Linked DNA regions of Homo sapiens: region 2 is linked to region 1. Evidence: fine-mapped expression QTL. A gene starts in region 1. The other region holds a variant in brackets. All regions are shown on one strand. Distances are between the middles of the regions.

The links. PIP is the estimated chance that this variant, and not a neighbour inherited with it, causes the effect.
Region 2: its variant is the best candidate, but not a certain one, in a credible set for the expression of SLC20A1 in naive CD4 T cells (Schmiedel 2018, PIP 0.81).

The regions. Positions count from the first base shown.
Region 1 is chr2:112,643,449-112,648,827 of GRCh38, reverse strand. SLC20A1 (solute carrier family 20 member 1) reads right to left here and starts at 2,889. Exons shown (of 11, transcript NM_005415.5): 1 at 2,699-2,889; 2 at 1,666-2,265; 3 at 1,364-1,504; 4 at 1,090-1,175. The coding sequence starts at 1,999. It overlaps SLC20A1-DT (SLC20A1 divergent transcript), which reads left to right and starts at 4,648. Exons shown (of 5, transcript NR_033871.1): 1 at 4,648-4,729; 2 at 4,813-4,869. RefSeq lists silencers at 1,642-1,936, 2,398-3,227.
Region 2 is chr2:112,605,721-112,611,099 of GRCh38, reverse strand. The region is part of intron 1 of LOC124907869 (a long non-coding RNA gene); the gene reads right to left. Among named protein-coding and RNA genes, the nearest start is that of CHCHD5, 24 kb to the right of the region's middle. The variant A/G (reference allele first, on the strand shown) is at 2,710.

The sequences.
Region 1 (5,379 bases):
GCTTATCGTACCTGTCTGCTGAATAAAACAGTACCAAACTTAGGAGTCCATAAATATCAATGAACTGTTTACTCTCATATTATACCAGGCTAAAGATATTTCAAGTTTTCAAAGTGTTAAACTGCTATATTCTGCCAGATTCTGGCTATGGAAAACAGTGATTAGTGAATCACTTTACTAGTCATAGAATTTCTACAGAGAAGAGACAAATCTTTCCCTAGAGAAGCTTACAACTAGACCAGACAAGTGGGTCTGAATACATTCTTACCTGCTGGGATTTATGCTATCTCCCTCAGATTTCTACAGTTTAGGAACACTTTTAAGAACTTACAATGGATTGTTAAGAGCCATTCACCTTAGAAAAAGGACAACTTTGTTTCCTGAGAAAAATGCATTTATCCTCACTGTAACTCAGTCCTATGCCAACATAATCCCTTGTCAACATTTATTTTGCAGCCAGCAAGACTTCTTGATAAAAGAAATGCAAACTGGGTCACTTAAAAGGGATTTTCAAATGGACAGGAAATTAAATGGCTGCCTGAAGTTTTTTTGGGGGGCGGGCCAAAAACTACCTTTAACTGGTTCTTTTCAACTATTCTGAGAAATTGGAGTCAAGTCACTATGGGAGGCAGAGTCCTCATCTAGAAGCTTATAAACTGGTTATGATAATCAGCACGGCAGAGACCCATTTAACTGGCAGCTTAGTTAAAAAAGCCACAGGGGACACTGTCTTGAACTCCAAGTTTACGTATTATATTAGCCTGAATATAACAGTGGTTTAAACAAATAATGTGTATACAGCTACACAAAACCACGCAAAATAAATTTCCTTATTTTTTTGCTCCCAGTTTCTCCTACTTCTTGGCACATCATAGTATTCAATTTTTCCTTCCTGACTGCCCTCTTGAGTATTAAAAACTCGCTTTCAGAGAACTCCACAACATACAAGAAATGCACAGAACAAAGAGCTTTTTAAAATTTTCCAAGGCCGCATACCTATACACCAATCACATCTGCAAAAGTACCACTGGGTTTGAAATCGATTGGGTGTGCTCCATGAAAGGTCTTCATACGGGGGAGAAAGGTTACCTTATGGAGGATGAATGCACGAACCAGGAAGAATAAAATTCCAGACATAATTCCAGAAAGCAGTGGGGACACGAACCAAGACATCACTGGAATAGAACACATTAAGAAAAAATATCAAATAATGAAAATCAGAAACCAAAAACCACTTTAAATGTTTAAGAGTTCAAAATTCTTGGGTCTGTCCCTCGACGTTAGAACACATCCTCCCATACCTAATGCCATGGTAACATATGACGAAAACGAAAATTAAGAAGCCGTTTGGAATTAAACATACCAATTTTTATCAGTTCAGACCACTTGACACCCTCCTGCCCCTTTGCCACGAGGGAGAAACCAATAGTTGCACCAACAATACAATGGGTTCCAGAAATAGGGAGCTTCAAAAACGAAGCCACGAGTTGCCACACAGCAGAACCTGAAACATAGTAAAGTTTTATTAAGTAAATATCAAAATTCCATTATGTAAGTGGCACATTCAGAAAGGTTAATCGGAAAGGTTATGCACAAAAATGGAACCACCCATGATACAAATTTGCTCACCCACCACGAAGAGGACAAAACATAAAAAGAACTTACCAAACATAGCACTGACTGAGCCGGCCATCAGCAGCCCTTGAGTCGAGTTGTACATCTCCACGTCAATCAAGCCCTTCCGGATGGTTTCGCTCACTTTGGCCCCCAGTAAGACAGAGCCCACTGTTTCAAAGATGCTAGCTAGGATGCAGGCTTGCTTCAGGGTCACTACACCTGAGCCCACAGCTGTACCAAAAGAATTTGCTACATCATTGGCTCCCACGGAGAATGCCAAGACAAATGCAATAATGAAGCCCAGGATGAGCATCCATAGGTAGTCCACCAAAGGACCAGAAGCGGCGGTAGCAGCTGTAGTACTGGTAATCAGCGTTGCCATTCTCTGGAGTAGTGGTTGTTTAGTAAGAGAACTACTGAGCGCCTTTCAAGATGTGTAAACAGAATATGAGGTATCAAAAATGCTATAATAAATAATATATATTATATAAAATTAAATACTGTAAACTACGGCACAGAAACCGAGCTGGGGAGTTACTGCTATACGCTGCGTATGGGCATCTGTTGTCTGGGGTTTCTTTGGCTCAGGAGGGCTAAAAGCACGGAGCAGAATTCCATGGCGGAGAAGAGAAAGGACGCAAGTTCATCCTGCGGGGGAGGGGGGAAATAACAATAGCTGCGTGCCCCTGGGGGGCCAGTGGGGCACCCCGCTCTACCCACGCGCCCGGGGTCCCGCAATAGCCTCTGCCGGCTACTCCAGACCCCCATCCCCAGTAGGACGCGCGAGAAGGAGAGGCACGTGGCTCCGGGTCCTCCGCGGCCCGCGCGCGCCCAGCCCAGCCCCTGCGCTGCCAGCCCGCGCGCGCCCTCCGCGCGAAAATCGGAAAAGGGCCGTTCCCGCGCGCGCCGCCCGGGGACCGCCAAAAAGGCCCGCGGGCGGGCAGACGGGCGGAGTGGAGGCGGCCAGCGGCGAAGAGAGAAGCCAGCCGCGCCGCCCACGGCGTCCGCCTCCAGCGCCACGGCGTCCGCGCCCGGCCCCGGGGAGAAGAAAGAGCCTTTACGAGGCGGCGCCACTACTCACCAGGGAAAAGGGAGGGCGGAGCGGGAGACGAGGAGATCGAGGCGACAGCGGCTGGAGCCACGGGCACACGGCCCGGGTCGGCGGCACCGGGGACAGCTCAGCGGGACTCACGACCTTCCCAGGAAGCAGCCGCGGGGGTTTCAGCGGCCGAGAAGAAGAACCACGCAGAGAGCGCCGGCAGCCATCACTCCAGCGGAGCACCCCGCCGGCCCCTACTTATAGCCCGCGCAGCGACCCGCGTGACCCCGCCGCGCCTCGCGCCGGCCCCGAAGCCCCGCCCCCGGCATGACGCAGCCCTCCTCGGCCCGGCGTGCCCAGCCGGGTGAGCCCGACGGTGGCGCTCATTGGCCCGGCCCGCTTCGGCGGCCACGCCCCCAGCGGGGAGCCGGTCCACGTGGGGCGGGACAGCCCCCTCCCTGCGGCCTCGCCCTGGAGTCTCGGCACCGTCTGGCCCCGCCGGCTGATTACAGCCAGAGATCGAGGGGGACCTCGCTGTCCCCCTAGAGGCCGTCATGCGGGGTTACAGAGGCTGCGACCAAAGTCATTCCTAGCTCCTCTCTCGGGGCTCCGGAAAGCCGTCCGCGCCTCCAGCCGCACTTTCAGCGCACGCAGGACCTGCCGCGCCCGGTGGCCACACCCGTCCCTCTGCCGGGTGACGCTGCGGGAGATCTTGCGCCCTGGGGCTCCGGATCCAGTTCTGGCACGTTGTTGCACCTGTGACTTGTCCTTGGCCTGGCACTGTCCCTCGCCTGGGGGAAGCGGGGGGGTGGGGGGGGGATGCTCACGTGGTCGCTTTGCTCCCGCAGTCATGCACTTGGGTGAAAACAGACTGAAGAGTCACGGGAACCAGCTTGTCTCCCCAGTTATGGCGCAGAGCTGCAAGGATGGCTGTGGGTCATTAATTTCTCCGTGGCTGACCTGTGTTTGTAACGCCGCAGCTGTTGCGAGGGGGAAGGACACTGCTTCGGATTCAAATTCTGACTCCTTGCTGCAGTGTGTCACCTTGAGCCAGTCCCAGATCTCTGCGTTCTCACAATTGTAAAATGTTAACAGAGGCTGCCTACCTTGTGGCTGGAATTAAATGAATTAACGTGTGTGAATGTGACTAGAATTCAGTACATGTTCAGGAAAAGCTGATTTCCGCTTTGCTGTTACCGTGAATATTACTGTTTTAGGGTGTAGAAAAGGGTGGAAGGGGATGTTATTGCATCCTGGAAGCTTATCCTTTTGAGGTAAAGATTGATTTCTGGTCCCCTGCGTGGTATATAGTGTAGTTTTGACATTATTTAGATGTGTTATGCACATTTGGGTGTTGATTATATGGCTTACGATCAAGACTAACCAGTCATGCCGTGGGAGATTAAGGTCGTGGTCTCTTGTCAGGATTGTAGTGAGATTTAAAAATTCCAGCCAGAAATACCAGGCTTAGAATGCTCTGAAGCCCTCCCCACATTTTTGCCATCTCTAGCAGGAGGGCACTGCATAGCAGAAACAAAGACGTTGTAAATTGTTGCTGCCTGAGTCATTTATAGAGGCTTAAACAACCTGAATGTCCTCTGACCTACCTGTAACATTTGATGGAGTTGTATGAGTAACTTACAAAGCTGTAGGTCCCAAGGTCGGTCTGAAAAAGAAAGTTCATATCCGGGAGCACTGACCCCGTAGTGTAATCCTGGCACCTTAAAACGTACTGCTCCCTCCACCTTCACTTCAAGGTTATGAAAACATTGAGTAAAAGGGATGATCTGTTCAAAGTCCTTAGTGTTCTGCCAATTTAAAACAGTAATTTTCAAAGCAGTTATTTGCAAGGAAATTGCCTAGAACTTCTCCCAGTGTGCGGTTGTTTTGTGTGTTTGTGTGTGTGTTTTGTTTGTTTGTTTTCAGTCTGTCCACAGGCGTACTTTTATAGGTCTGTGATAGTAGGTAGCTCTTCAAGTTGGCAAACACCTGCTGGACAACCCCTGAGAGATTCATCTGAGTGAGAGAGCACTCTCCAGCCCCATCGGAGTGGGTTTGCAGGGAAATCATAAGGTAGAGATTCAAAGGAATTCCCTTGCGTTGCAAATGAAAACTGTATCTTCAGACTCTGATATAGTGTAATCCTTCCTTTTTAGGAAGAAATCCTTATCTTTCCAACACTGAGATGCTTCTGCCGAAGAGTAGAATGGGAGGTGAGGAATTGGGGTGGGCCCTCACTGCTTTGCCTCCGGATCAGTAGGGTACAGCCCTTGGAGACCAGGATCTTCCTTGGCTGGGACACCTTCGTCCTCCCCTAAGGGAGGAGAGGTAGGGATCTGCCTGTGGAAAGAAGTTACAGTGCCTTTTAAATAGAAATAGGAGGTAGGAGGACCGTCAGTTGTCAGTTCGTGCACAAATGGCATTGTTTCTGGCCTTATCTCTGAATGCTGAGGAAACAGGTCAGAGATCCTAAAGAGAATCTAATCTCTTAGAATCCAGGCATTGGCACAAACCCCCTCTAGCATCTTAGGGAGGTGGTTTGGTGTAGTGGTTAAACACATAGACTGTAAGACCAAACCACCTGCTCTGTCACTCACTAGTCCTGTGACCATAGGCAAATAAATTATCTGCCTCAGTTTCCTGATCTGTAAAGGGGTGAGATTGAGACTTCTAACTCACAGTGCTGTTGTGAGGACCAAATGAATGAATATATGTAAAGCCCT
Region 2 (5,379 bases), 38 kb after region 1:
ACTGAATCCAGCAGCACATCTAAAAGCTTATCCACCATGATCAAGTTGGCTTCATCCCTGGGATGCAACCCTGGTTCAACATACGCAAATCAATAAACGTAATCCATCATATAAACAGAACCAAAGACAAAAGACACATGATTATCTCAATAGATGCAGAAAAGGCCTTTGATAAAATTCAACACCCCTTCATGCTAAAAACTCTAATAAACTAGGTATCGGTGGAACATATCTCAAAATAATAAGAGCTATTTATAACAAGCCCACAGCAAATATCATACTGAATGGGCAAAAACTGAAAGCATTCCTTTGAAAACCGGCACAAGACAAGGATGCCATCTCTCACCACTCCTATTCAACATAATATTGGAAGTTCTGGCCAGGGCAATCAGGCAAGAGAAAGCAATAAATGGTATTCAAATAAGAAGAGAGGAAGTCAAATTGTCTCTCTTTGCAGATGACATGATTGTAAATTTAGAAAACCCCATTGTCTCAGCCCAAAACCTCCTTAAGCTGATAAGCAACTTCAGCAAAGTCTCAGGATACAAAATCAATGTGCAAAAATCACAAGCATTCCTATAAACCAATAACAGACAAACAGAAAGCCAAATAATGAGTGAACTCCCATTCACAATTGCTACTAAGAGAATAAAATACCTAGGAATCCAACCTACAAGGGATGTGAAGGACCTCCTCAAGGAGAACTACAAACCACTGCTCAAGGAAATAAGAGAGGACAAAAACAAATGGGAAAACATTCCATGCTCATGGATGGGAAGAATCAATATCGTGAAAATGGCCATACTTCCCAAAGTAATTTATAGATTCAATGCTATCCCCATCAAGCTACCACAGACTTTCTTCACAGAATTGGAAAAAACTACTTTAAACTTCATATAGAACCAAAAAAGAGCCTGCATAGCCAAGACAATCCTGGGCAAGAAGAACAAAACTGGAAGCATCATGCTACCTGACTTCAAACTATACTACAAGGCTACAGTAACCAAAACAGCATGGTACTGGTACCAAAACAGAGATATAGACCAATGGAACAGAACAGAGGCCTCAGAAATAACACCACACAGCTACAACCATCTGATCTTTGACAAACCTGACACACACAAGCAATAGGAAAAAGATTCCCTATTTAATAAATGGTGTTGGGAGAACTGGCTAGCCATATGCAGAAAACTGAAACTGGACCTCTTCCTTACACCTTTTACAAAAATCAATTCAAGATGGATCAAAGACTTAAATGTAAGACCTAGGACCATAAAAATCCTAGAAGAAAACCTGAGCAATACCATTCAGGACATAGGCATGGGCAAAGACTTCATGCCTAAAACACCAAAAGCAATGGCAACAAAAGGCAAAATTGACAAATGTGATCTAATTAAACCAAAGAGCTTCTGCACAGCAAAAGAAACTACCATCAGAGTGAACAGGCAACCTACAGAATGGGAGAAAAATTTTGCAATCTATCTATCTGACAAAGGGCTAATATCCAGAATCTACAAAAAACTTAAACAAATTTACAAGAAAAAAGCAAACAACCCCATCAAAAAATGGGCAAAGGGTATGAACAGACACTTCTAAAAAGAAGACATTTATGCAGCCAACAGACATGAAAAAATGCTCATCGTCACTGGTCATTAGAGAAATGCAAATCAAAACCACAATGAGATACCATCTCATGCCAGTTAGAATGGCGATCATTAAAAAGTCAGGAAACAGGCCGGGCACGGTGGCTCAAGCCTGTAATCCCAGCACTTTGGGAGGCCGAGGTGGGTGGATCACGAGGTCAGGAGATCCAGACCATCCTGGCTAACACAGTGAAACCCTGTCTCTACTAAAAATACAAAAAAATTAGCCAGGCGTGGTGGCAGGTGCCTGTAGTCCCAGCTACTCGGGAGGCTGAGGCAGGAGAATGGCGTGAACCCAGGAGGCAGAGCTTGCAAAGAGTTGAGATCGTGCCACTGCACTCCAGCCTGGGAAAGATGGCGAGACTCTGTCTCAATAAAAAAATAAATAAATAAATAAAAAGTCAGGAAACAACAGATGCTGGAGAGGTTGTGGAAAAATAATGCTTTTACACTGTTGGTGGGAGTGTAAATTAGTTCAACCATTGTGGAAGACAGTGTGGCGATTCCTCAAAGATCTAGAACTGGAAATATCATTTGACCCAGCAATCCCATTACTGGGCTTATACCCAAAGGATTATAAATCATTCTATGATAAAGACACATGCACACGTATGTTTATTGTGGCACTATTCACAATAGCAAAGACTTGGAACCAACCCAAATGTCCATCAATGATAGACTGGATTAAGAAAATGTGGCACATATACACCATGGAATACTATGCAGCCATAAAAAAGGATGAGTTCATGTCCTTTGCAGGGACATGGATCAAGCTGGAAACCATCATTCTCAGCAAACTATCACAAGGTCAGAAAACCAAACACCACATGTTCTCACTCATAAGTGGAAGTTGAACAATGAGAATATATGGACACAGGGAGGGGAACATCACACACCGGGGCCTGTCAGGGGGTCGGGGGCTAGAGGAGGGATAACATTAGGAGAAATACCTAATGTAGGTGACGGGTTGATGGGTGCAGCAAACCACCAGGGCACGTGTATACCTATGTAACAAAACTGCACGATGTACACATGTTTGCCAGAACTTAAAGTATAATTAAAAAAA[A/G]AAAAAAGAAAAGAAAAGAAAACTCAGGGATCAGGGTTTTTAAGAATAATTTGGTGGGTAGGGGTCCAGTGAGCCAGGAGCACCGATTGGTTGGCTTGAGGATGAACTCATAGGCAGTCGAAGCTATCCTCTTATGCTGAGTCAGTTCCTGGGTGAGTGCCACAGAACTGGTTGGCAGGTCCAGGTGAGGCCAACCACTTGTCAGAAATGGAAAAACCTGAAAAGACATCTCAAAAGGCCAATCTCAGGTTCACAATGGTGATGTTATCTTCAAGAGTAATCAGGGAAGTTGCAAATCTCATGACCTTCCACGTAACAGCTGGTAATATTTAGAGTTCCAGCCCCTCTCATCCTAACTTGGTGGCTGGTGGCCTTTCATTCGTTTTACAAGAACAGATTTGCTTTTGGGAAGGGCTGTTATTTAAACTATAAACTAAATTCCTTCCCAAGGCTAGTTCGGCCTATGCCCAGGAATGGATAAGGACAGTTTAGAGGTTAGAAGCAAGATGGAGTCAGTTAGGTCTGATCTATTTCACTGTCATAATTCCCCATAATTTTGGCAAAGGCGGTTTCAAGATGGGCAGTCTTCTTCAGAACTCTCCCGAGCCAGTTTATCACCTGCTTCCCTGGTTCTGGTAAGCATGAGACTCCATGCCTTGCCCTCCTCTGAGTATAGCTGCAGACTAGAAAACACTTGGCTGGGCCAGGCACGGTGGCTCATGCCTGTAATCCCAGCACTTTGGGAGGCTAAGGTAGGCAGATCACTAGGGGTCAGGAGTTTGAGACTAGCCTGGCCAACATGGGGAAAACTCCGTCTTTACTAAAAATACAAAAAAAAAAAAAAAAAAAAAAAAAGAAGCTGGGCATGGTGGCGCATGCCTGTAATCACAGCTACTCAGGAGGCCGAGGCAGTGAGATGAGATCACACCACCGCACTCCAGCCTGGGCAACAGAGCAAGACTCTGTCAAAAGAAAGAGGAAGGGAAGGGAAGGCAAGAGAAGGCAAAGGGAGGGGAGGGGAGGCAAGGGGAGGAGAGGTTAGGTGAGGGGAGGCGAGGCGAGGGGAGGGGAGGGAGAAGAAGGGAAGGGGAGGCCAGGGAAGGGGAGGCAAGGGGAGGGGAGGGGAGGGAGAAGGAGGAAAGGGAAGGGAAGGGAAGGGAAAGGAAGGGAAGGGAAGGGAGGGGAGGGGAGAGAAGGGGAGGGGAGGCGAGGGGAGGGAAAGAAAGGAGGGAGGGAGGGGAGGAAGGAAGGCAGGCTTGACTGTAGCTTAGGAAGGAAGGAAGGCAGGCAGGCAGGCTTGGCTGTAGCTTAGGAAGGAAGGGGAAAATGCTTGTCTGTAGCTTAGAATTAGCACCCACACTCGACGGGAGGCGATGATACAAGGCATGTATATGAGGGAGTGGGAATTTGGGGACCACCTAGAATTATGCCTTCCCATCCCTGAGAGCATGTGCATAGCTACCAGCTATAAAGCTGCTTGGCTGCAGTGTGGTATGGGCTTCACCTGGCACTCATGTTGCTGCCATTTGGCCCCTGTTGTTTTGGTGCCGCCCTGTGCAAGGGTCACAGGGACCTGGCACCTCTGTCTACTTGCGCTTTCACCATCTGTATGAGTAATATAAACTGCCTGATCTAAAAAATGGCTCCTTGTTGCTTTCCTGACCATGCATGTCAGCCAGGCCTTGCCTTGTGCTTGATACATAGCAGCTGTGGCTCCCCCAGGCTGCTGCTTAGGGGCTGCTGCTTAGGGGCTGCTGCTTGGCCATCTGACAGGAAGATACTCGGTCTACTAAGGGAGGAAAGAATGATACATGAAGGAACCACAGGACGTGGCCAAATGTCCAGTAGGTGCTGGGGAGACACACGGGGCTGGCTCTCCTCATGCTGCATCAAGTGGGACAAAGTTGGATAAAGGGAAGTTTATTGATGCGAGAGTGCTGCTGTGGGGTATGGGATTCACACCCCAGCAAGGAGGTGAAGATAGTACTAACACTCCACTCAATGGTCTCATGGAAGCCTGGAAAAAGCAATATCCCCCAGGAAAGCAGAACTGCCAGAAATGCCGTGCAATAGTGGATACAGGAATGAGGTGGCTCAGAGAAGCAGGCATGCTGGAGTGGATATGCTACTGAGGAAAGAAAACCCACCAGGTCACCGCAGTCCACAGGGGAGCCGTGGGCACCTTCTGTTTATCCAAACGAGGAGGAATGTGCTGTTCAATGGGGCCACCAGCATCAGCAAGAAGCTTGGTGGTGACTGTGGGCTGATCGTGGGAGATGATGTTACAGAGCTATGTTCCCAATACTAATGAGGATGAGTCCTGAAATAATAGAGGCCAGGTGACAACACTTCACTGCCAGAAGAATGCTGGGTGAGATTGCTGTAATACATGGCAAGAACAGATGTAATGTATGACAGGCAGGGGAGTCTGTTCCCATAGAGAATTATAGAGATGGGCCAGGCGCTGTGGCTTACGCCTGTAATCCCAGCACTTTGGGAGGCCTAGGTGGGTGGATCACCTGAGGTCAGGAGTTCAAGACCAGCCTGGCCAACATGGTGAAACACCCCAGTCTCCACTAAAAATACAAAAAATTAGCCAGGCGTGGTGGTGGGTGCCTATAATCCCTACTACTCAGGAGGCTGAGGCAGGAGAATCGCTTGAACCCAGGA